Linked DNA regions of Homo sapiens. The protein of the gene in region 1 interacts with the protein of each later gene in a pairwise test. Each region holds a gene or a part of one and is shown on either strand. Other genes may lie near its edges. The genes, in order: MAGEL2 and IRS4.

Evidence for each region.
Region 2: the proteins of MAGEL2 (region 1) and IRS4 interact in a two-hybrid assay, tested with the Homo sapiens proteins (one study listed by BioGRID).

The regions. Positions count from the first base shown.
Region 1 is NC_000015.10:23,642,073-23,654,893, reverse strand, and holds MAGEL2 (MAGE-like protein 2), read left to right. Parts: upstream 1-7,026; 5' UTR 7,027-7,151; coding exon 7,152-10,901; 3' UTR 10,902-11,345; downstream 11,346-12,821. UniProt on the Homo sapiens protein: Probably enhances ubiquitin ligase activity of RING-type zinc finger-containing E3 ubiquitin-protein ligases, possibly through recruitment and/or stabilization of the Ubl-conjugating enzyme (E2) at the E3:substrate complex.
Region 2 is NC_000023.11:108,721,642-108,733,563, reverse strand, and holds part of IRS4 (insulin receptor substrate 4), read left to right. Parts: coding exon 1-985; coding exon of another isoform or gene 986-993; exon of another isoform or gene 994-1,067; intron 1,068-1,666; coding exon of another isoform or gene 1,667-1,671; exon of another isoform or gene 1,672-10,536; coding exon of another isoform or gene 10,537-10,562; exon of another isoform or gene 10,563-11,040; coding exon 11,041-11,045; coding exon of another isoform or gene 11,046-11,151; 3' UTR 11,152-11,922. UniProt on the Homo sapiens protein: Acts as an interface between multiple growth factor receptors possessing tyrosine kinase activity, such as insulin receptor, IGF1R and FGFR1, and a complex network of intracellular signaling molecules containing SH2 domains.

The DNA.
Region 1 (12,821 bases):
GCCGGGTATGGTGGTGGTTGTCTGTAGTCCTAGCTACTCTGGAGGCCGAGGGAAGAGAATGGTGTGAACCCGGGAGGCAGAGCTTGCAGTGAGCCAAGATCGTGCCACTGCACTCCGGCCTGGGTGACAGAGCGAGACCCCATCTCAAAAAAAAAAAAAAAAGTAACCTGCACATGGATGTTTATAACAGGTTTGTTCGTAATGGACAAATCTTGGCAGCAACCAGGGTGTCCTTCATCAGGTGAATGGGTAAATAAACTTCGGTACATCCAGACAATGGAATATTATTGAGCATTGAAAAGAAATGAGCTATTAAGCTATAAAAATATATGGAAGTTAACTAAAATGCATGTTATTAAGTGAAAGAAGCCAGTCTGAAAAGGATACATACTATATGTGTCCAACTAGTTTACATTCCAGAAAAGATAAAACTATGGAGACAGCACAAAGATCAGTGGTTGCCAGGTATCTGCAGGGGAGGGGAGGGGATGAATAGGTAGAACATGGAGGATTTGGGAGCTAGGAAACTATCCCGTGTTATACTATAATGGTGGATGTATTACATTAGACATTTGTCAAAACACAGAATGTACAATACCAAGAGGAAACTTAATGTGAACTCCAGACTTTGGGTGATAATGACATGTCAATTGATGTTCATCAGCTGTGAGAAGCATACAATTTTGCTGGAGGACGTTGACATTGGGGCAGATCGTGTGTGTGCTGGGGGAACCAAGGGGTGTATGGAAACTTGCTGTAGTTTTGGCTTAATTCTGCTGTGAACCAAAAACTGCTCTACAAAATAAGGTCTATTTGATAAGAAGAAAAACATGAGTTACCAGGCCACAAAATTAGGAATATTAAATGTGTATTGCTAAGTGAAAGAAGCCAATCTGGAAGGCTACACATTTTATGATTCCCACTACATATGATATTCTGGAAAAGGCACAACTATGGAGAAGGTAAAAAAAATCAAAATTTGCCAGGGGTTTGGTAGGAGAAAGCACAGGTTTTTTAGGGCAGTAAAATTCTTCTATATAATAATGCAATGGTGGACACAGAAATCTGTTATCACACAATTGTGATAACCCATTTATCACACAATTGTGTGAAAACCCATAAAATGTATACATAAAGAGTGAATACTAATGTAAACTAGGGAGTTCAATTAATGATATTGGCTCGTTGACTGTAACAAATATACCGCTCTAACGCAAGACATTAAAAATAAGGGGCATTGCCAGGGGTAGGGGGACAGGGATGGTGGGAGAGGAGAGGGGATACATGAGAAGTCTCTGTACTTGCCTCTCATTTTTTCTGCAAACCTACAACTGCTTTAAAAAATAATCCATTAATTAAAAAGAAAAGACACAAACAAAACTCACAATAAATGACATACCATTTCTCATTTACTGAACTGCCTAAAATACTGAAATGCCTAAAATAAAAATGGCTGACTGACTGTATCAATTTTGCAATGATGTGGATCCATTGGAACCCTCATATTTGCTAATTGCAGTGTAAAACTGCAATCACCATTTCACATCCAGTTGAATAACAAAAATCAAAAAAGACTGACACTACAAAATTTTGCAAGGTTGTCAAGTACCTGGAATTCGTATGCATTCTTAATTCTTAACATTATTCTTATGTTAGAGTGTAAAATGGTCTAACCCAACTATGGAGAACTCTTACAGTTTCTTATAAACAGCCGTCTATCCTATGACCCAGACATTCAACTCCCAGGCATTTACCCAAGATAAATGGAAGCATATATTTACAAAAGGCTTGTAAAATAATTTGTAATGCAGCCTTTTTCTCATAATAGCATCAGATTTTAAATGTCTCACATGCCAACAGGTAACAGATAAATTATGGAGTTATAAATACAATGGAATACTTTTCAGCATAAAAAATAGCAAACTTCCAATACTTGCAACATATTTACATTAAAAAATGTTGAACAAAGGAATATTGACCTCTATCTGTGTGTCTTTCTCTCTCCCTCCCTCCCTCCCTCCTACGCTGATTCCATTTTATGAATTTTTAGAACAGGCAAAATAATCTAGGGTGAGAGAAATAAGGAAGTGTATGTTTTTGGAGATAGAATAATTGACTGGAAAAGGGTGCACGGTAATTTTGTTTGATAATAAAACTATTATTTATATTGTTTTGAGTGTTAATTACTCAGTGGCAAAGCTCATTAAATTGAATACTTTAGATCTGTGCATGTTGTTGCATGTTAATTATATCTAACATATTTTAAAAGGTTTTGGCAGCCCTGGTGTAATGGTAAGAGTGATGGGCTGGGCACAGTGGCTGATGCCTACGGTCCCAGCACTTTGGGAGGCCAAGGTTGGGGGCTCACTTAACCCCAGGAGTTTGAGGCCAGCCTGAGCAAAATAGTGAGACCCCATCGCTACGAAAAACAAACGAACAAAAATCACCTGCGTGTGGTATGGCCTGTCTGCAGTCTCGGCTACTCAGGAGGCTGATGCAGGAGAATGGCTTGAGCCCAGGAGTTTCAGACTGCCGTGAGCTATGATCATACCACTGCACTCCAGTCTGGGTGAGAGAGCAAGACCCTGCCTGGTGGTCAGCGGCAAAAAGAAAAAAAAAGAATGCAAGCTCTCACAACGAATAGATTGGGATTTAAATCTGAATTCTGATATGTATTGCTAGATCTTCTGAGCCTCAAATTCTTGCCATGTAAAATCAAGCCAAATACTTATGGATTTTGTGAGAAATCAATGAATAGAGTCTATTATACTCTGAGGATGGTATTTTATCAAATAATAAATTGTTGATAACTAGTAGTTACACTATTTTAATCCTTCCAATTCTTTTTTTTTCAAACCTCATACTTATGATATCTCCTATGCTTTTTAAATAATTTTTCTACTTAGACTGTCTATCTGGATCACATGAATCTTTCACAGCCTCAGGTTTGTTTTCTTTCTTTTCACTGCTACAATCAGCATCACAGCTCCCCTCACCCCATGTTCCAAGCAGAAGTGAGTATTTGATTATTTTCATCCTCTATGACCAATATGAGGTTTAAACAATGCGACAACACCTTATTGTACTAAAAAACCATATGAATATCCCTATATGACTAACAATAGATTCGTGAAATGTCCCTATGTGACTAACGATAGATTAGATTAATGTCCCTATGTGACTAACAATAGATGTAAATAGGACTTGCATCAGATTTTTCTCTGTAGTCTTATCTATAGCACAGTGCTGGGCATATAGTGAATGCTTAATAAAAGGTATTTCATAAATAAGTAATTTTAGAGTTTATGAAAATCATAACTGATTTTGTTACTCACTTATGAATATTTACACAAAGTCTAACAGCTACAGAAGATTGGAAGACAGGCAGTTCTGGTGCTAATCTTACCATTTCATTTTGTAGCTCCTTAGTGACCACTCAATGCGAGCTGGGGATACCAAGGTGAGCAAAACAGGCTCCCGTCTGCTCCTAGTTCCGCAATTTTCCTACTCCCATCACAATACTTCAGTTCTCCCTTCCCTGTTTTTAAAAATCATTTTGTATACTGCTGTTATATACTGACGTAAGCCATTAAAAGTCCTTTCTAATTAGGGAACAGAGGCCAACATTTCATGGATGTTTTGTATGTTTTTCCCTTTTGTTTTCTACTCACCTTGAATTTTCAAGCTGTTTCATATAAAAGTGAGGAAAGGGAATTTTGACAACACTTGGTTCAAAGGTGTTGAGGAGGAAGAACATATGCACAGAAAGGGAAAGAGGGCTTCAGGAAGCAGGAAGGTTTCACAGGAGTGATTTGGGAAGACCCAACACTTGTGGTCTAATGCCTCACTAGACTCAGGGCAATATTATGTTTTGCTGTGATTAAGGCAGTCAGTTTTCAAAAACGACCCGTATGTCCCTGTTTCCTCAGGTGAATTTTGCTCACAAGTAATTTGTAAATAGCTAGGGAGAGCCCCAGGAACAGCCTGGGTCTGAGAGCACTGACTATCTGAAATAAGCAGATGTTTCTTCCAGGGAGAATAAACTGGGTTTACCCTCTTTACTTGTTCCTATAGAATCAATGGATACATAATCTCTGATTTTTCCCTGCCGGTTAAAGAATGTTTCCAAGCAGTGGCAATAGTGCTGGTGTAGAAGTTATTCATCTTCCATTTCTAACTACTCCTACGCACCTGTTTTTTCCTTTGTATAATGCCTAATCTTTTCTTTCTGGCTTTGGTGTTGCCTCTTAACATAAACCGGACCTCTTTTCATAGAACAGATTCGGTGGGAGTTGACACTGTATGTCAGTGCTATTCACTGACCTCCAACATCAGTGAGAATAGCCAGACCCTAGTGGGAGCCATTCATTGTGTGGGATGACCAACAGCATGGTGGACGGCAGGACAAACCTGTCATAATTCCCGAAAATAAACGGTTAGTGGGAGAACTTAATCTCTGTGTAGTTTATACATTTGCATTAGAGTGGAAAAAAAGTATGCTTTAGAAATGCCCTAGGCTAAAAAATAAACTGATTTTTCCAAAGCCATCCATAGCCAGTAACAGCCATGTAGCAGAGTTGATAATAGCAGGTCCTGAGGGTTAGGCATTTAGAGTTTGTCCTTCTACAGTGTTTCCAAACCCCCATGAAACTGAGAAATCCTGTGTGGATCTGGGCCATTAACCCAAGGGAGAAACGAAAACCATGAAACACGGTAGTATCCATTCTGCAGAAGCTTTTTGTGTGCTGTGGTAGATGGCCTTCTCTGGGGATACACAGGAGTGATGTCCAGTAGTCCACCCTTATCCTTGGGGGATATATTCTGAGACCCCCCTGTGGAGGCCTGAAACTGGAAATAGTACTGAATCCTATATGTACTACGATGTTTTCAACTGATAGCCGAGACAGCTACTAAGTGAATAACAGGCGGGTAGCATATACAGCATGGATACACTAGACAAAGGGATAATTCATGCCCCAGGCAGGACGAAACAGAACAATTTCATAATACTACTCAGAATGGCATGCAATCTAAAGCTTATAAATTATTTCTGGAAATTTCCATTTAATTTTTTGGACTGCATTTGATTGCAGGTAACTGAAACCACACAATGTGAAACTGCAGGCACAGGAGTGCTACTGTATTCGCTACCTGCTCATTAACCACTTAGTAGCTGCTTCAGATATCAGATCTACCATCGGTTTCCCAGTGTTTGTGTTCAAGGAACCCTTGTTTTACTTAGTAATAGCCCCAAAATGTAAGAATAGTGATCCTGGCAATTTAGGTATGCCAAACGGAAGCTATGAAGTGCTTCCTTGAAGGAAAAAGGTGAAAGTTCTTGACTTAATAAGGAAAGAAAAAATCGCATGCTGAGATTGCTAAGATATATGGCAAAAACAAAACTATCTGTGAAATTGTGAAGAAGGAGAATGAAAGGGATACATGGTATATATAAGGTTTGGTGCTGTCTCCAGGTTCGGGCATCGAGAGTTTTGGAATGTATCCCCTGCAGGTAAGGTGGGGGGGGCTACTGTATCATCAAGCACCCTTAAAAATCTGACTGTTTTGAAAAGAGTTTCCTGGGAATAACAACATCCCTTAAGTGTCCAGAAAATCACTGAAACTTTACCCCCAAATTCTTCTATTATTGTTTAAGGCAATAATAACATTGGGAGTGTGTACATACCTTCTCTTGGGTCCATAAATTACCAAATTTGAGGACCCCTGGCTAAGGGTACCTGGGAAGGAGTGGGGTGTACCCTTCATCGTCCTCATCTGCCCCCTGGTGGCACGTTTTGTCACTCTGGACTCCTGCCGTAGGCTGCCAACAGCCTATTTAAACGAAACATCCTTGATATTTAGTGCTTTGTATATTTCCAGAAAGCTTTTCAATTACTGAGATTATCACTTCCTCTCACCATAAAGTTGTATAGCATTGCCCAATAATACTATTGTCATCTGCTTTATCTGTTAATACTTGATTTGTCTCATATTTAAACTGATTTTTGTCACGAGAAGTTTCCCCAGAAATTTTTTTATTCTTTGCCTGTTTTTCCTATATATCCAAATATATCAATTTTTGATCTATTTATATACCCATTTTGTTATCTTCAGGTGCGTTATTTGGTTTTCATTTTTTAAATTTCTTTCCCATTCTGCAGATGAAAAATACTGAGAAACCTACTCTGTTCCTGCATCCGAGCCATTCCACAGGCAGTTTTCCCATACTAAAAATGCTGTCTTCCACTGATGTGTGGCATGTCTCAGTTCCGTGACTTCTTTTCCTCTCTCTCTACTCGCTGCTGTCCCTTTTCTCCATGTGTCTCTAACATGCCTGTGTTCTTCAAGACCCAGTGCAACCACATTCCCTCCCACAACTCTATTTTCATGAGGAATAGCCAAGCAGGACTCCCAAGACATCATACAGGAGTGCCTACAGGGTATCTCTCCTTGGCAGTCCCACAGCACCGCAAATGCCCTGTGTCTGCCAATACTCATCAGCCTCTCTTCCCGTGTGCCTCTCCTGGGACCCTAAGAGAGTAACAGTCCCTGCAACTTCCCACTTTCTCCAGGCAGGGACTTGTGTGCCTTTTCCATGTCTTTGACTCCTTTATTCAATTATAATACAGGTATCTGTCTGCTATAACTCCTGGAACTCTCTTATGTAAATGCGCTTTTTTCATTCTCCGCCTCACATCTTAGCCCAGACCACACCATCTCCCCCCGCCGTCTTGGATACCTTCCATGTTTCCAGTGGTCTGCTCCCACTCCACACTGCAGTACAGTGATTTTTCTAAAACATGGATGGGTTCCTGTCACTCCCCTGTGAAAAGTCATCCATGTGGAGTCTGACTGGTCTGCATTTGGGGACTGGACAGAGTGAGAAGGGATCCTGTGTCAGCCAGGACTCCGGTAGACGCCCCTATGCAATATCCACTTGTGGTGGTCGGGGGCGGGGAAGGGGCGGGATTGAGCCCCCTTCCCCCCTCCTCCTTACTGCGGAAAGCTGCGGAGCGAGCAGCACTCACTTCCTATTCAGCATTCAGCAGGGAGGGAGCCTCTGAACAGCCACGTAGGCATTCTCTTCTCTCTGGAGGAAAAGGCCCAGCAGCTGTCCGAGGAAAAGACCCACCAGCTGTCAGCAAAGGGACATGTCGCAGCTAAGTAAGAATCTGGGTGACTCGAGTCCTCCGGCGGAGGCCCCGAAGCCGCCTGTCTATAGCCGCCCTACGGTTCTGATGCGGGCCCCGCCCGCTTCCTCCCGGGCTCCGCCAGTCCCTTGGGATCCACCTCCAATTGACTTGCAGGCTTCATTGGCCGCTTGGCAGGCACCTCAGCCTGCCTGGGAGGCCCCACAGGGCCAGCTGCCCGCCCCGGTGGTTCCGATGACCCAGCCTCCTGCCCTAGGGGGCCCGATAGTCCCGGCTCCCCCGCTGGGGGGCCCGATGGGTAAGCCTCCGACTCCCGGGGTCCTGATGGTGCATCCTCCACCTCCGGGAGCCCCGATGGCCCAGCCTCCGACCCCGGGAGTCCTGATGGTGCATCCTTCAGCTCCCGGAGCTCCCATGGCCCATCCTCCTCCTCCGGGGACCCCAATGTCCCACCCTCCCCCTCCGGGGACCCCAATGGCCCATCCTCCTCCTCCGGGGACCCCGATGGCCCATCCTCCTCCTCCGGGGACCCCGATGGTGCATCCTCCTCCTCCGGGGACCCCGATGGCTCATCCTCCCCCTCCGGGGACACCGATGGCTCATCCTCCCCCTCCGGGGACACCGATGGCTCATCCTCCACCTCCGGGGACACCGATGGCTCATCCTCCCCCTCCGGGTACACCGATGGCCCAGCCTCCAGCTCCGGGAGTCCTGATGGCCCAGCCTCTGACTCCGGGAGTCCTGATGGTCCAGCCTGCTGCTCCGGGAGCACCGATGGTCCAGCCGCCTCCAGCAGCCATGATGACCCAGCCTCAGCCTTCAGGAGCACCGATGGCCAAGCCTCCAGGTCCAGGAGTCCTGATGATTCATCCTCCAGGTGCGAGAGCTCCGATGACCCAGCCTCCAGCTTCAGGAGCACCGATGGCACAGCCGGCGGCCCCACCTGCACAGCCGATGGCCCCACCTGCACAGCCGATGGCTTCTTGGGCCCCGCAGGCTCAGCCTCTGATCCTGCAAATCCAGTCTCAAGTTATAAGGGCTCCTCCGCAGGTTCCCCAGGGCCCGCAGGCACCCCCAGCGCAGCTAGCCACACCCCCGGGCTGGCAGGCGACCTCGCCAGGATGGCAGGCCACGCAGCAAGGCTGGCAGGCCACTCCCCTGACTTGGCAGACCACGCAGGTCACCTGGCAGGCACCAGCCGTTACCTGGCAGGTGCCGCCGCCCATGCGCCAGGGGCCCCCGCCCATCCGCCCTGGCCCACCACCCATCCGCCCTGGCCCACCACCGGTGCGACAGGCCCCACCGCTGATCCGCCAGGCCCCACCGGTGATCCGCCAGGCCCCACCCGTGATCCGCCAGGCCCCACCCGTGATCCGCCAGGCCCCCGCTGTGATCCGCCAGGCCCCACCTGTGATCCGCCAGGCCCCACCTGTGATCCGCCAGGCTCCACCTGTGATCCGCCAGGCCCCGCCGCTGATCCGCCAGGCGCCGCCGCCCATCCGACCTGCCCCACAGGTCCTGGCCACCCAGCCACCGCTCTGGCAGGCCCTGCCACCCCCACCTCCACTGCGGCAGGCCCCGCAGGCTAGGCTGCCGGCCCCGCAGGTGCAGGCGGCGCCGCAGGTGCCTACGGCCCCACCTGCTACGCAGGTACCCGCGGCGCCGCCCGCTGGCCCGCAGGTGCCCCAGCCTGTGCTGCCGGCCCCGCTGTCTGCCCCACTGTCTGCCCCGCAGGCTGTGCACTGCCCTTCCATCATCTGGCAGGCCCCCAAAGGTCAGCCCCCGGTGCCACACGAGATTCCAACGTCAATGGAATTCCAGGAGGTGCAGCAGACACAGGCGCTGGCCTGGCAGGCCCAGAAGGCCCCCACTCACATCTGGCAGCCCCTGCCTGCCCAGGAGGCCCAGAGGCAGGCTCCCCCCTTGGTCCAGCTGGAGCAGCCCTTTCAGGGAGCCCCGCCCTCCCAAAAAGCCGTGCAAATCCAGCTACCCCCCCAGCAGGCCCAGGCATCGGGTCCGCAAGCGGAGGTGCCCACACTGCCGCTCCAGCCTTCCTGGCAGGCACCGCCTGCAGTCTTGCAGGCCCAGCCCGGACCCCCGGTAGCAGCGGCAAATTTTCCCCTGGGCTCCGCTAAATCATTGATGACTCCATCAGGAGAATGCAGGGCCTCTTCTATAGACCGCAGGGGCTCCTCTAAAGAGCGCAGGACCTCCTCGAAGGAGCGCAGGGCCCCTTCAAAAGACCGCATGATCTTTGCTGCCACCTTCTGTGCTCCCAAGGCAGTGTCAGCTGCGCGAGCACACCTGCCAGCTGCCTGGAAAAACCTGCCTGCCACACCGGAGACCTTTGCTCCCTCCTCAAGTGTCTTCCCAGCTACCTCCCAGTTTCAGCCTGCCTCTCTGAATGCCTTTAAAGGCCCCTCTGCTGCCTCAGAGACCCCAAAGTCACTGCCATATGCTCTGCAGGATCCCTTTGCCTGTGTAGAGGCCCTGCCTGCAGTTCCATGGGTCCCACAGCCCAATATGAATGCCTCAAAGGCATCGCAGGCAGTGCCCACCTTCCTGATGGCTACAGCAGCTGCCCCCCAGGCAACTGCCACCACTCAAGAGGCCTCCAAGACCTCCGTCGAGCCGCCACGCCGCTCCGGCAAGGCCACCCGGAAGAAGAAGCATCTGGAAGCCCAAGAGGACAGCCGTGGCCACACGCTAGCCTTTCATGACTGGCAGGGCCCAAGGCCCTGGGAGAATCTAAATCTGAGTGACTGGGAGGTCCAAAGCCCTATCCAGGTCTCGGGTGACTGGGAGCACCCAAACACCCCCCGTGGCCTGAGTGGTTGGGAGGGCCCTAGCACCTCCAGGATCCTGAGTGGCTGGGAAGGGCCCAGCGCATCCTGGGCCCTGAGTGCCTGGGAGGGCCCGAGCACCTCCAGGGCCCTGGGTCTCTCTGAAAGCCCAGGGAGCTCTCTGCCCGTAGTTGTGTCTGAGGTCGCAAGTGTCTCTCCGGGATCCAGTGCCACCCAGGATAATTCCAAGGTGGAGGCACAGCCCTTGTCTCCCTTGGATGAGAGGGCAAATGCGTTGGTGCAGTTCCTCTTAGTCAAGGACCAAGCCAAGGTGCCTGTCCAGCGCTCGGAGATGGTGAAAGTCATCCTCCGAGAGTATAAAGATGAGTGCTTAGATATCATCAACCGTGCCAACAATAAGCTGGAGTGTGCCTTTGGTTATCAATTGAAAGAAATTGATACCAAAAACCACGCCTATATTATCATCAACAAGCTGGGCTACCATACAGGGAATTTGGTGGCATCCTATTTAGACAGGCCCAAGTTTGGCCTTCTGATGGTGGTCTTGAGCCTCATCTTTATGAAAGGCAACTGTGTCAGGGAGGATCTGATCTTTAATTTTCTGTTCAAGTTAGGGTTGGATGTCCGGGAGACAAACGGTCTCTTTGGAAATACTAAGAAGCTCATCACCGAAGTGTTTGTCAGGCAGAAGTACCTAGAGTACAGGCGAATCCCTTACACTGAGCCCGCAGAGTATGAGTTCCTCTGGGGCCCTCGAGCATTCCTGGAAACCAGCAAGATGCTTGTCCTGAGGTTTTTGGCCAAGCTCCATAAGAAAGATCCACAGAGCTGGCCATTCCATTACCTTGAAGCGCTCGCAGAGTGTGAGTGGGAAGACACAGATGAGGATGAACCTGACACCGGTGACAGTGCCCACGGCCCCACCAGCAGGCCCCCTCCCCGCTAATAGGTGTAGCAGAGATCTCGCTCCTGTGTTTCCCTGGCCAGAGGCCACTGACAGGGTGGGGGGACATTTTTGTTCCTGGTGTTTGTGTTCCAGTTCCACGAGTGTACGTTTGGATTTTCAACTTGGTTTCGTATCTGCCAAAGCTTTGTACATTTTTTATGTGGTGTTGATTTCAATCGGCTACTGTTCTGTTCTGTATTTTGGCATCTGTGTTTTTAAGTGAGATCTGTGGTTCTCTGTTTTGTGTTTTAATTGTTATGTTTTGGTATCAGCTTTGTGCTGGCTTTGTGAAATGAATTGAGAAGCTATCCATCTCATTTCTGGTATAGTTCATGTAGCATTGTAATCGGTTGTTCTTTGAACGTTCAAATGACTCATCAGTAAAAACTGTCTACAGAGAAGTAAATATCTATATCTATATATATAAATATACTTTCAGCATAACAGAAGTGTTTGTCTTTATTCTAATTTTTACACTAGATGGTGGAAGCCAAGTTTTGCCGTATTCTCTGAATAGACATGAATAGCAAGACTACTCTCAGTTATAGTAAAAACCACGGTGATGGAATTGTTTTCCAAGGAGAGTACTCCATTCATCTTTATAAGGATGCAGTGATTTCAGTGGGTGGTTATACATAAGATTTCTCCAGGAGATTAATTAAAGCACACACGTTAGTGCCCAGCTGGTAACGTTGTTATTAGAAGCAGAAATGTCCTTAAGGGTATGTGGAGAAGAAGGGCCATCTGCCTGCAGGACTACAAATAACCAGGTGGTCCCGCTTCATGGAGAATTTGGCCAAAAGGGTATTTGTCAATCATGTGGCCCGTGGCGGGGTGTCCAGCAGTTCAAATTTGGGTTTCATCAACACACTGCTACCGGGATGGAAACGTGCTCCCTGCAGGATATCCAGGCTTATAACAGGGAAAAGGAAAAAACAGTCTTCATTTAATTAGAAACCCTGCAGATTGCCAGCAGTAGTGGCTGGGTTAGGGGAGGGCGTGGCAGGGTGCATTCCTATCAACATAGAGTTCTAGGGGAAGGTCCTGGGGGGAAGGGTCATTCTAACTTGTAGGGGAAGGCAGCCGGCAACGCCTGAAGTTGCTGAACAACCGCGGTCAGCCCTTGGCTATGAACCTGGTCTAGGCAGGAAAGGGACAAGGGAATGAACTGGCCTGAGTGTTTTGAGGAAGGATATTCAAGCACACACCAGGCTGGTGTACACAAAAGGACGTTCTTGTGGTCATACTCTCTTCCTGTGGACAGGGGACCATCAGCCCTACTTGCCACCGCATACTGTCTTATCAGAAGGAAGAAATCCAATCCCATATCCCGCTTCTAGGGTGAAGCCAAAGTCCCAGATGCGGTTAGTGGCGATGGTGGAATTCTCCTGCCACCTAGCGGCAGATTAGAGGTGCCACCGCAGCTGCCGCAGCAACAGCCCCTCCCACAGTGCTTAACTTCACAACCATGTATATACTTGGATTGCAGCTACTCCTTGCTTCACCACTTTTGCTCATAATTTTATCTATATCTGTGCCCAGAGATTCCTTCTTTTCTCTTATAGGCCAAGGTAGCATCTGTTTTCAAGTCCAATCCGCTCTTCACTCAACAATTTCTATCCTTGGTCCTGCAGCGCTGCCACTTAGGAAGCTGACTAGGAGAGGAGCCCACAAGATGCAGACTCTACTCCTAGCACCCGCAGAACTGAGCTTTCCAGGACGATGATCCCCGCCCCAGGACCTGCCAGGCCGCAGGAGCTCTTTCTCAAGTTGTCTAAGTGGTCAGGTAGTCCAAAAACTGGGAGGCAGTTTCCTATAAACTCCTTGGGTCAGAGAGTCCTGCGCATTTGTCCGCAAGCAATGTTTACTTATTTTTACAACAACAGCAAATGTCCATTGAAGGAGACAGCAATGCCCCAG
Region 2 (11,922 bases), on another chromosome or scaffold:
AAAAGAGAGAGCAATACACCAGCTCCCTCTACTCAAGGACTACCAGATTCGTGGGGCATAATTGCTGAACCCAGACAGTCAGCCTTTTCTAATTATGTGAATGTTGAGTTTGGAGTGCCATTTCCAAATCCAGCAAACGACCTCTCAGATCTTTTAAGAGCTATACCACGTGCCAACCCCTTATCTCTGGACAGTGCTAGGTGGCCACTTCCTCCCCTTCCCCTCAGTGCTACAGGTAGCAATGCTATTGAGGAAGAGGGTGACTACATTGAAGTAATTTTCAACTCAGCAATGACACCAGCCATGGCTCTTGCTGACAGTGCCATTCGCTATGATGCTGAAACAGGTCGAATCTATGTGGTCGACCCATTTTCTGAGTGCTGTATGGATATTTCTCTCTCCCCCAGCCGATGTTCTGAACCACCACCTGTAGCTAGGCTGCTGCAGGAAGAAGAGCAGGAGAGAAGACGCCCACAAAGCCGTTCTCAAAGTTTCTTTGCAGCAGCCAGAGCCGCTGTCTCTGCTTTTCCAACAGACAGCCTCGAGAGAGACCTTTCCCCATCCTCAGCCCCGGCTGTCGCTTCGGCTGCAGAGCCGACTTTAGCCCTCAGCCAAGTTGTAGCTGCGGCCTCCGCGCTCGCCGCAGCCCCGGGCATCGGCGCAGCAGCCGCAGCTGCTGGATTTGACTCCGCCTCTGCCCGCTGGTTTCAACCTGTTGCTAATGCTGCTGATGCCGAAGCAGTAAGGGGAGCCCAAGACGTTGCCGGTGGCTCGAACCCTGGAGCCCACAACCCATCTGCAAACCTTGCCAGAGGTGATAACCAGGCTGGCGGGGCTGCCGCTGCAGCTGCCGCTCCGGAACCACCACCTCGCAGTCGCCGGGTGCCAAGACCCCCGGAGAGAGAAGATTCTGACAACGACGACGACACTCACGTGAGAATGGATTTTGCCAGACGTGATAATCAGTTCGACTCTCCCAAAAGAGGTCGGTAATTTTAGAATTAATTTCCCTAAAGTGAATGGTCATTGTCTAATGATTCGATGCGCTACAGTCTACAGTGTTAGGGATACTATTTCATTAACTGGTGCTATTCGACATGGAGTATAGAATTCAGTTTTAATTATTCACAAATGCCTTTTTGATCTTTGCAAAAATTTGTTTTTATCTAATCAATTTCTTTATCTGGACAGAACTGATTATCATTTAAACACTGGTTCTACTTTTTTAGGAGTAGTTAAAACGCAGACATAAAAAGCATAAGGATACTTTTAAACATCCTTCCCCATCATTTAATGATAATGTAAAGCAGGATATCGTAAATTGGGTTCCACCAACTAATTTTCAAATCAACAATTAAAAGCTGCTTTTCTGCAAATGCCCATATTTAAGTGTAGGAATTTAATAAGAGCACAGACTATTAAGCAGTAATAATCAACTATTTATGTTTAGGGAGGATAATTTTCTCCTCTGAAAGTTACTTTTTAAAGAGCAGTCGTTGTTGTGCTAGTTTGCTGTGATTTACCAAGAAAGTTAAATCTCAATTGTTAACGTGAATGTCTGGGGGGAACAAAACATAAATAATCCAAAACAGGAGGTGATTAAAAGAAGACAGTATTTGGCTCTGGAATGTGTTTGTGTGTTGATTTTCTTTTTGTTTTTACACAGGATAAATTCCAGAAACCTTGAGTGTTCCTTTTCTCTGTCACTAGTAATGACAGGCAAGTCACATTTGCTGTGCCTCATTTTCTTCTTTTAACCCCCCACCCTTCTAAAAGAGGGTGTGGTGACAACTTGAGAATGGATATGAATATTATTTCAAAGGTTTAAAAAGCAGTTAAAACATTTAATTCATATATCTTATGGGAAATCAAGGAAAGCAAGATAAGGCTGGAGGAAGACCTGACTCCAGGGGCAGCTTACCCTGGAATGGTGGAAGTTTTTAAAGGGCTACTTTTCCAAAGGAAGAAGTAAGGAAGAGTAGGAGCTGTCAGACTTGGAAACAAGACTTAGAGTAATTCTACTGTGTACAACATTGTGGAATGTTGTCATCAGTGTGTCTTGAAACATTTTCAAGAGATGATTGCAGAGGATGATGTCTCCATAGTCTCAACTACCTTGCCTCTTAAGTAGAATATGCTTCTTTCCCAGTGAAGGGAAGGGATGGACCCCAGCAGTTTTCATTCCAGTAGTCAGTTTAGTGAAGATTTTTGCTTTGCTTGCTTTGTGGAATGCTTTTGTGATTGGATCTCTGCCCACTGTGCTTGATCAGGCAGAACAAGTCGGGCACTGATCACAACAGTCACCTAACAAGCTCCCTATTTAATGCAGGTGTAGCCCCCCCACATCCCCTTTTTCTCCCTGCTATAGAAAACTTGCCATACACAAACTCACATTTGCAGCGTGGACACATTAAAGAGTGATCATTAAAACAACAAAAGGATGCTTTGGCTTGCCAAAGGATTCAATTCAGACCTCTTTTAAACTGTGAGTTCCCTCCCCAACACACACACATACACACACACACAAACACACATGATCACCACTGCTACCATAATCATACGTTTAAAATATATAATTTCATTTCCAAGTCTTTAATCCATAATAAGATTTTCAAGAGTAGATCTACTTTATTCTGTAGAATATACCTGAAAATTGATCTCAATCTATTGTTTGAGTCTAACTATTGAAGACACCATTTATAATTTTGATGTAGATGATACACAGTTGCCTGTGTCCCTGTAGTACTTTCAAAAGGACCAGTTTTCATAGAGGTTTATTTTAAGAAGTTTAAGATTTAAATAGTGAAATCTTACTGTTCCTTGAATAAATTCTGACTTCCCAAGGAATACCTAGACACAATGATCATTATTTTAGCATAAATTCCTGATTTATGACTTTGTAGCTATTTTGGAGATTTAACATTCTGTAAATGCATTGTTTATTGAGGAAATTCCTAGCTTTATTGAGTGACTTTAGCAAGGAAGCTCTATCTCACAGGGAGGCAGGCGCTTAGGTTGAAATAAGAGAATCAACGTGGAAGCACTTTGGAATGTTAAAGCACTTTACAAATGTAAGATATTTTTAGTGTCATTGGATTAATACTGAAGTGAAATTTCGGCAGTTTAAACTGATTCAGTTTCTTGCAAAATAATTGATCTTGAGGGTGATTCCTGCACATAATTTGCTGAAATACATGAAAGGAATGGTGGGGATTGCCGGCGGGGGGGTGCGGGGGTGGGGGTGGTGGTGGTGGTGGTGGTGGTGTTGATGGTGGTGAAACAACCCATTGTAGGAAATGACTTTGGTTAGCATTTTAATGTAAATTGTATGGTAGAATGTTGTCTGTGAAGTGTTAAGAACAAGCTGAATGATTCTGATCCTTTTTTATTGTAAAGCTGTAGAATAATTTTCACTCATTTCTGATCTCTATTTTCCTATCTAACATTAAAACAAAAACAATCACGTTAGGAAACAAAAACATAATGCTTTGACAGAGGAACAAATACCATCTTTATTAGAAGTTATGTATTTCAAAAAGTCATTTTAATTGATGGCAGGTGCTTAGAACAGTGCCTGGCATATAGTAAGTACTATACATGAATTATTTTACAGTTATTGCCATTGTTATTGTTGCTACTGTTATTATTACATTTAGAAAAACAAACCTAAATTAAGATTCTCCATCTGAAAATCTCACTTTTCAGTTAGTCTTTACTTGCATTTAAAATACTTTACATTATTGTTCAGTTGGCATGTTTATAGATTACCATTTAAGTGAAGTGAGATTATAAATCTGTGAGACAGCTGTTCTCATGTAACACAAAATTAATATGTAATTCCATTTACCTACAGTCACATTGCGTATAAGTAAGTACAGTAAAGGAATTTACTCAAGTCGATTAGAAAGAAACACCCAGAAGTATAACCTTAGACATGACTGTATTAATAAATGAAATAATTTTTAATCATTTATTAAAGATGAAGTCTTCACATTTTAAACACATAGGTTATAGGCATTAGCATTTAGGAGAAGAATGTTGTTTCTTATGCAGTTTAGTTTGACTGTTAACCTATGTATGACTATTTGCTTCTTTTTCTACCTTACCTGATGTACAATTCATAGTTCAAAATGACTTGAGGTGAACATTTTCCTGGTTTTTTTATTCAAGAGATGGGAGGATATAAAAGGGCAGCTCTAGGAGGGGTGAGAGAATCGGTCAGCCAAATTAGTAATGTTATGATGGCACTTGGTATTAAAAAGCAAAAAAAAAAAACTTTAGTAATTAATTTTTCAGTGTTAGACACTGTTATCACCATGAAGGAATCATGCTTCTTTTGAGTGTACTACTGCCAAACTTGTTGCTATCAGTTATAGGCACTAAGAGCACATTGTTTTTATTCCATTGAAGTTAATTATTATAAAAATTTCCATATAGCAGAAATTTCCCAGCTACCATTGACGGATCATTTATTTTAGGTAATATTCAACACCTCAAAATTGGACAGTGTTTGGACTAATGAGGTATTTGTCCTCTAACAATTAAAGAGGACTTCACTTAATTAAAGTTAACTAAAGTTGTTCACAATCATTATTCATTTGCATTCATTCTATTTTAAGAGTGATGTTTTCAGGGTAAAAATTTCAACTACTAGCAAAATACTTACCTTAAACAAGGACCAGAACTTTAATTAAGCACACCAGAATGTCACACATGTATAAAAATTCGAACGAGATCTCTTACTTTCTTTTTCTCTCCCTAATCCCCTGTTTTGGGAACAAACTTAGGCTTCTCAGAGTGACAAAAAAATAATTCCTGTGGGAATAGATGTGGCTGACGAGTGTAGGGAGAACTAAGGAATAGTTTATGTGATTTAAAAGGGTCTATTGTTAAATTGTCAAATTGTTGATTGAGGAAATGCTTTCCAGTTGCAGATTGCCTTATAGTTTGCAAAGCACATTCACATTCATTATTTTACTGATGGATGGTAAGTACTGGAAATGAAGCCCATGTTGAGAATTTTCCCAAGATCAAAAAGGTAAGTGGCAGAGCTGAAAATCTAACTCATACATCTGATTTCAAGTCCAGCACTCCACCCAACACATGACACCTCCCTTTAATCAGGTGTTTAGTCTGTTATTTTCCCACTGGTGACAGATTATTACATGGTTAATGATTAGGAAAAAATTACAAGTTTGCTTTCACTTGATAGTAGCAAATTTTGTTGTAAGTAATTCATTCAGAGCATTATAACTGTGGACTATCTTCCAGGACCTGGGTAATTTTATTACATTGAACTGTTTGCCCTGGCTCTTAGAATAAAAGAATTTGACTTGTGCTGGAATTGAATGTTTTAAATCTGATATAGGGAGGAGTTGGTTAATCTTCACTGCCCAAACACAAATAGTGTATGTATCTATTTAGATCCCACAGAAACATTGAAAGGAAAGAAAGTGAATTGAGGGTGCATTCAGTAAATTTCCATTAATGGTCATTTCTTTAACTGAAGTTAGATTTCTTTGATTTTCCTAATAATTCATTGACATTTGGGAGTTATAGCAAAAAGTCTTTTCATTTAATTTCTTCCTTCATTATAAAATTTGGTATTCTGATCTAAATCAGCACAGTAGGCAAAACAGGATAAAGTAAGACAGGTGGAAGAATAAGCAGTGTAGCAATAGACGTTCTTCATTTGTTTAAAAAGTGAACTTGCTTTTGGCAGTCAGGCAAGTAGATTTTAGAAGCCTTGAAAATCAAACTCTCTCCTTGGGACATAGAAATCCCTGTTTACAATTAAGTTCATTTTGATTTAGCACCTTTTTTAAGGCTTTAAGAGTATATAAAAATAGCCCAGACGTTTTATTGGCAGTATTGGAAAATAGCTTTTGTAAAATGCTTAATTAAAACTTTCAGTATATTTTCTCTAAGAGGTGCTGCCAGACTCTTAGATAGTGAGGATCATTTACTAGAAAACGTTGCTTGGTCTTGAATGAGAAATGAGAAATTTAAGACACTGCTTTTTATAATAATGAAATAAATACATCACAAAGCACTGAGTTTTTGCCACAATCATTGGATTGCTGATTTTAAAGCTATTGATAAAATTGCCAAGAAAAATGTGCTTGCCATATGAACTTAAAATATATTCTCCAGCAATTCTGCATTGATTATTGGTAATGTAGCTACAGGTCTCACATTTCCACCTTATTTTGGAAAAATAGACTCAACACTTGAGAAATAGGAATGTTTAAAGATGTTTCTAGTGTAAATTATATACTGTTTTAGATATGCATTTTTAGAGGGTACCTTTCAACTTCTGGCTGAATAATTAATTTCTTTTAGAATGGAAAACATGTACTTAAATACTTATTAAGTGAAATGAGAAAGTTACTGCTATTTTCTCTTAGCTTCCTGATACCTCTTTCTTATTGGTTAGGGTTGCATTGGTTGTGTTCTGTGAGTCTTACCCTCATGTGCCCTTTGCCAAACTTGTGCCCTTGAATTCAGGCAAACATGCCCTTTCCTGGTCTCTCTCTGGCTGAAAAGGTGAGGGCCACTGTGGGAGTCCTGCAGGGCCCATAGAGGGCTTCGCCAGATGTTGATCACTCCCAGTACACAGCCTTCTTGCACTTAGCTTGCAGAGGCAACCTTCCTTGTAGGGATCCTTGTTGTACAGATCCAAGGCTGTGCTGCCTGCCCTACTGTCACTTGGCACAGAAGCAGCTGGGCCGGTGTTTAAAGCTATTTTCATGGTTGGATTGATCACAATATGTTTGATGCCAGCCACACCTTCTGGATTTACCGAATATCTAATTCCCTATATATTGTAGTCACTTTAGCTAGTTTTGACAATTTATATAATTTTTCTCCTATGATTAATAATTTCCTACTTATAGACTTGAAACTTAGAATAACAGTGAAGTTTCCATCTCACAATTAATCTTGAAAATTGCTCACATGTGTATCCATGGGGCCCTTGAAAGTCTGACCAGCAAATGTGATTTTTTACTCTTGCTTTTTAAAGTTTTATGCCTCCAGTCTTGAAAGCTTACCAACCTTGTCCTCGCACTCAGAGTCCTGTGCCCCCACCCACCTCCATGATGAAGTCCTTATTGTTGCTGCAGCTTTTACCATAGTTTCCCTTCGGCTGTCACCCTGCCTCCGACTCTTCCAACTGGTTGAGTATGGGGGACACAATTCCTATTGCCATGGCTGGAAGACATATATTCCTGGAGTCTCAAACTGAAACTTCACATACATCTTCCCTCAGAAATGATGACTGGGTATAGTCAAAATAGTTCTCTGTTAGTTCAGGAGTTGCATAGGTTAAATATAGGCATATCTAGACAAAGCTATAAACCTATCCACCATTAATTTATGACATTGTTTCTACAAGATAATTTATTCTGAGTTTCAACTAAACAATGACCTTGGAATATGTCTGTTTTGTAAATTTGAAACTGCCTATATTAGAATTCTAGTAACTTGCATTCTTTAAGTTGGCAGTAACTAGGCAGCAGAGTGAAGTGGCCCATGTGTGTGTTGGGAAGTAGTGGAGAAGCTGACCTACCATGAAAATCCTGTAGCTGATCTCCATAGAGTTTGTATCCAGATACTCAAGACTGGAATGCACATGCATAAGTGGCCCAGGGCCTGCTAACAAAGGGCAGGTGTAAAACGATTGAGCTGACCTTTGAGGAGATGGGGGTTTACAAGTGTCATACATTTCCCTTACAGATTCTTTTGAGCATTCTGTCCCAAAACTATTGCCATTGTGGGAACAAAGGTATTTTATCATCCGATCTATGAAGGAGATAATAGTCTGGTATAATTGGTGTTGTAAAGACTAGCAGCGATTATTACTAGTTTTTAGCCTTGAGCAATAGCACTTAATTTTATCAAGTCCTAGAGAGTCATCCTCCTCTACAATCACAGGGCACAGAAAAGTATGATGATCCTTTCTTATTGAGAAAAAACAAAAAAACCTACATATACTCCAGAGACAATGCTAAGCTAACTAATATAATTGCATTATTATACATTCATCTTTGGCATGTATGCTTCAACATATCTTTCTTTGCTTCCCTTTTTTTTTTTTTTTTTGGTGCTTTACTTGGTTGCCCCTGCTTATGTGAGCTCCAGTTGATCACAGGGGTGCAGGGATAGCATGTTGTCAAATGAACAGAGTGAGGAATTTGCAAAAACCCTTGAAAAACATTTTTGAGCTCCAGGAAAATTGGAGCTGAAAAGATAACTAAGACAATAAGTTTGCAGAAAGGGAAAAGAGAATGAGAGAATAACAATATATTGTTATAGGTTCACCTTTCTCTGAGCAGAGGAAATACTGCTGTTTCGGACTTCAAAATGTAATAGAGGCATATTTATGATTCATATAAAGAGGTCTGAAATACCCTGGAGGAACTGCCTACTTGGCTCACCCTACAAATTTCCAGGGATATTGAAGTCATCTGTGCATTATTAGCGTATTAAAGATTAATGTTCAGGTTTATATCATTATATAACTCGAAACAGAAAAGTTTACTTCATTTGTTTTTGAGAAAAAAAAGTTCCCTGCCAGATTTTGGTAGGAGGAGTAGGGAAATATTTTGACTCATCAGAGTCCACTGAGGTTTTCTATATTACAGAGAAAAATTACCTGAAGAGTATACCACCCATTAAAAAGGGTGAAATTAACTTGTTGTTTAAAAGACCTTTGATTAATTGGGAAAATAAGAATATACAATAAGGTAAGTATTTATAACCTGTCAGTATCAAATGGGAATAATACATCCAAAACAGACCACATTATTACAAGCATCACCATTTACCTTGCTGATGGTGAAATCACATAAAAATGAACGGGAGACAAATCTAAGGTATGACTTTTAGCCCTTTAATATTCATTTTGCAGACTGTTCACAACCAAGTTTTAATCTCGAATTGCTTTCCTTTGCCACCCAGCAAGCTTCTGAGTTGCTTCCTTACGCTGTTCTTTGGAATGTGCCCCGGGAATGTAAACTCATTTTAATATTGGCCTAAGTAAAATAGGATTATAAAGGCAAATCTGTGGCTCAAGTTCCCATAATGCATTTCAAAAGCAAGTTAAATTATTTTGGGATTATCCTGTTTGGGATAACATTATTCCTTTCTACTAGCATAGTTAATCAAGAATTGACAAATGTATTTTGTGAAGTAAACATGAAATTACACAATTATTTGTCACTTTTTATTAAGTTACCAAACATTCACTTAATGCTGGTGTAGGTGTTATAGGAAAGCAATGGCAATATGAATCAAATTTTAGTAGAGGCTCTGTCATTTAAAAAAAGGAAAGAGAAAGAAAAACAACTCCAATAAAAGCAAATGTTCCTAATCTTAGTATAATGCCAATAGGGTAGTTATATGGAGCTTAATTTGCAGGTTTCTGGGAAAATATATATGAAATCCAGTGTATCATATAAGACAGCAAGAAGTCCCTTTTAAAGCACATGCAATGTGCTATATATGGACATATGAAAATATTTTTGGTATTAAAACAAAATAGTAAACTAAACTAGGTGAAATACCTTCCTAACCTTAAATATCTATTTTAAAATGTAGCTGATATCTGATAACACTGTAATACTGGTACTGGTCTAGCCTAATTTTGCAGCGAATTAACAGTTACTAATATGCAGTCTCACAGTTAACTGTGGTTATCACAGACTCCTTTCTTCCTGTGTAGAACTAGATACATAAAATGTAAAATTTCCTAAACCCACTGCTGACAGGAAAGCTTAATACCTTTACTAATCTATGGCATTTTTTTGAGACAGGGTCTCACTCTGTCACCCAGGCTAGAGTGTAGTTGCGCGACAGGGTTTCACCATGTTGCCCAGGCTGTTCTTGAAATCCTGGCCTCAAGGGATCCACCTGCCTTGGCCTCCCAAAGTGCTGGGATTATAGGCATGAGCCACCATGGCTAGCATTTTTTTAAACTTCTAATCTACAAGAACAAACCTATACATTGAATCTTAATGAAGAGACACAACTAGTAAGAGGGAAATGTACTGTTCCCACTCAGTGCTTCATCCAGCTGCAAATTTGTTACATTTTAAAAATCCTTGAGCCCAGGAGTCTGGGTGGGGCTGCAGTGAGCCATAATGATGCCACTGCTCTTCACCCTGGGCAGCATAGTGAGACCTCATCTCTTTAAAAAAATTGTAAAACCTTTGATGAGAAAATGAATACTTAAAATGTATATTTCCAGTTTAATAGACAATCTTGTACTTGAAGCCCACTCTGGGGGATGTTTTCCATGGATTCTTTTAAGATGTCTCAAATAAAATAGAATACTTGGTACTTTGTGGTGACCTGATCTTAAGGTAACACTGGCATCCCATAATCAATTTGCTGATCATTTATTCCTATCCCTTCTCTGGTCCAGCACCTTCTTCTATGTATCTGATCACCCCCTGCCACACTCCCCATTATGCACCCACTCAAAAGCAGAAAGCCAAGAGAATAATGCTGGAACTTTTTTCTTTTATTAAACAGATGGGAATTTCAAGTCTCCTTTGCAGGTATGACTTTGTTCTATTAGAAGAAATTCAATGATTGAGTCTAGAGACCATCACCAATGCTGTACTTAAATCCTATGACTTGTGCCACATAACCTGGTGAAGGCAGAGTCAAACATGTAGAAGAAGAAGAAAAAAATCTGTTTCTCTGCACAATGCCTGGCTCACTCTTGGGCTCCACTGGAAGAAAGTAGAACAGTGCACGCACGTGCAAAGATGCTGTCCACCAGAAATGTCAGTGACAGCCTGGGGGCAAGAAGAATAACTGCCCTTGTGTCTTTGCCCAGCTGATATTCCTCACAGGCAGCCAGCAGAGTTGATTAACCATGTCCATGCCCAGGCAGTCTCCTCTGTATATCTCTCAAAAACTTCTAGTTAGATTTTGTTTTGTTTTGTGTTGTTTTGTTTTAAAACAGGGTGGGGGTGACAGCTCTCCACATTAATTCTGCAAGTAACTTTTGTTTTATTATCTTTTTCCTAGAGTGATTATATTGCCACAAAAACACATTTTAGAAGAAAAGTGATGCTTATGGAATTTTATCTTCGTCTACTCCAGATCTGCCTAAAGGAAAGAAAACTCAGAGGCTTCTGAGTAGAAAGCAACCCAAATTTCTACAAGCCTACAAGTGGACTCTGGCAATTGAATGATCCTATTCATGCAGATCATTCATACTGCTGCTTATGGATCCAGTGATTTCTAATTAACAATATTTACACTGTGCTTTGTTTTTTGTTTTCTGGTTTTCCTCCCCAGTCTGTCCCTTTGAAAGGAAACAGATACTATACAAGTGAGCATCTCATAACTCTTTCCCTCTTTAAAAAAAAGTAACTTAGAATACATATAAATTTGGTCAATGCCAATTTTAATAATGTAAAATATTTAGATTCAATTTTGAAGTTGAAAAACTTTAAACCAGGGCACATAAAGAAAAAACAGCTGTCATAATTGGAAGGAAGGTATGATCTGGAATCTTTTTTCCGAGTATTACACACACAAAACATTTCTTGATCAATGAATTAAATGTCAACTGAACTGATATCTTGATGGGGCATTACCAGTATTTTAAAGGCAGGACTAAAGGGCAGATTATTTCAAGTTTTGCTCATTAGCAAAACTGCAACATTCTGCTCATGTTATATGTCAATGAAACTAATATCTTGATTGAGCATTTCCAACATTTTAAAGGCAGAACTGAGAAACAGCTATTTGTTCACATACAACACTGTGATGTTCTGCCTGAAAATCGATTGAGTATTTCCAAACCTATTATTTTTCATTTATTGTGAAACCTACATTTACCTCCTAAAAGAAACAAAGCTCTTCAAAAGTCTCTTCCCAAGGCCCCTCCCTGCTTCTCTGGGC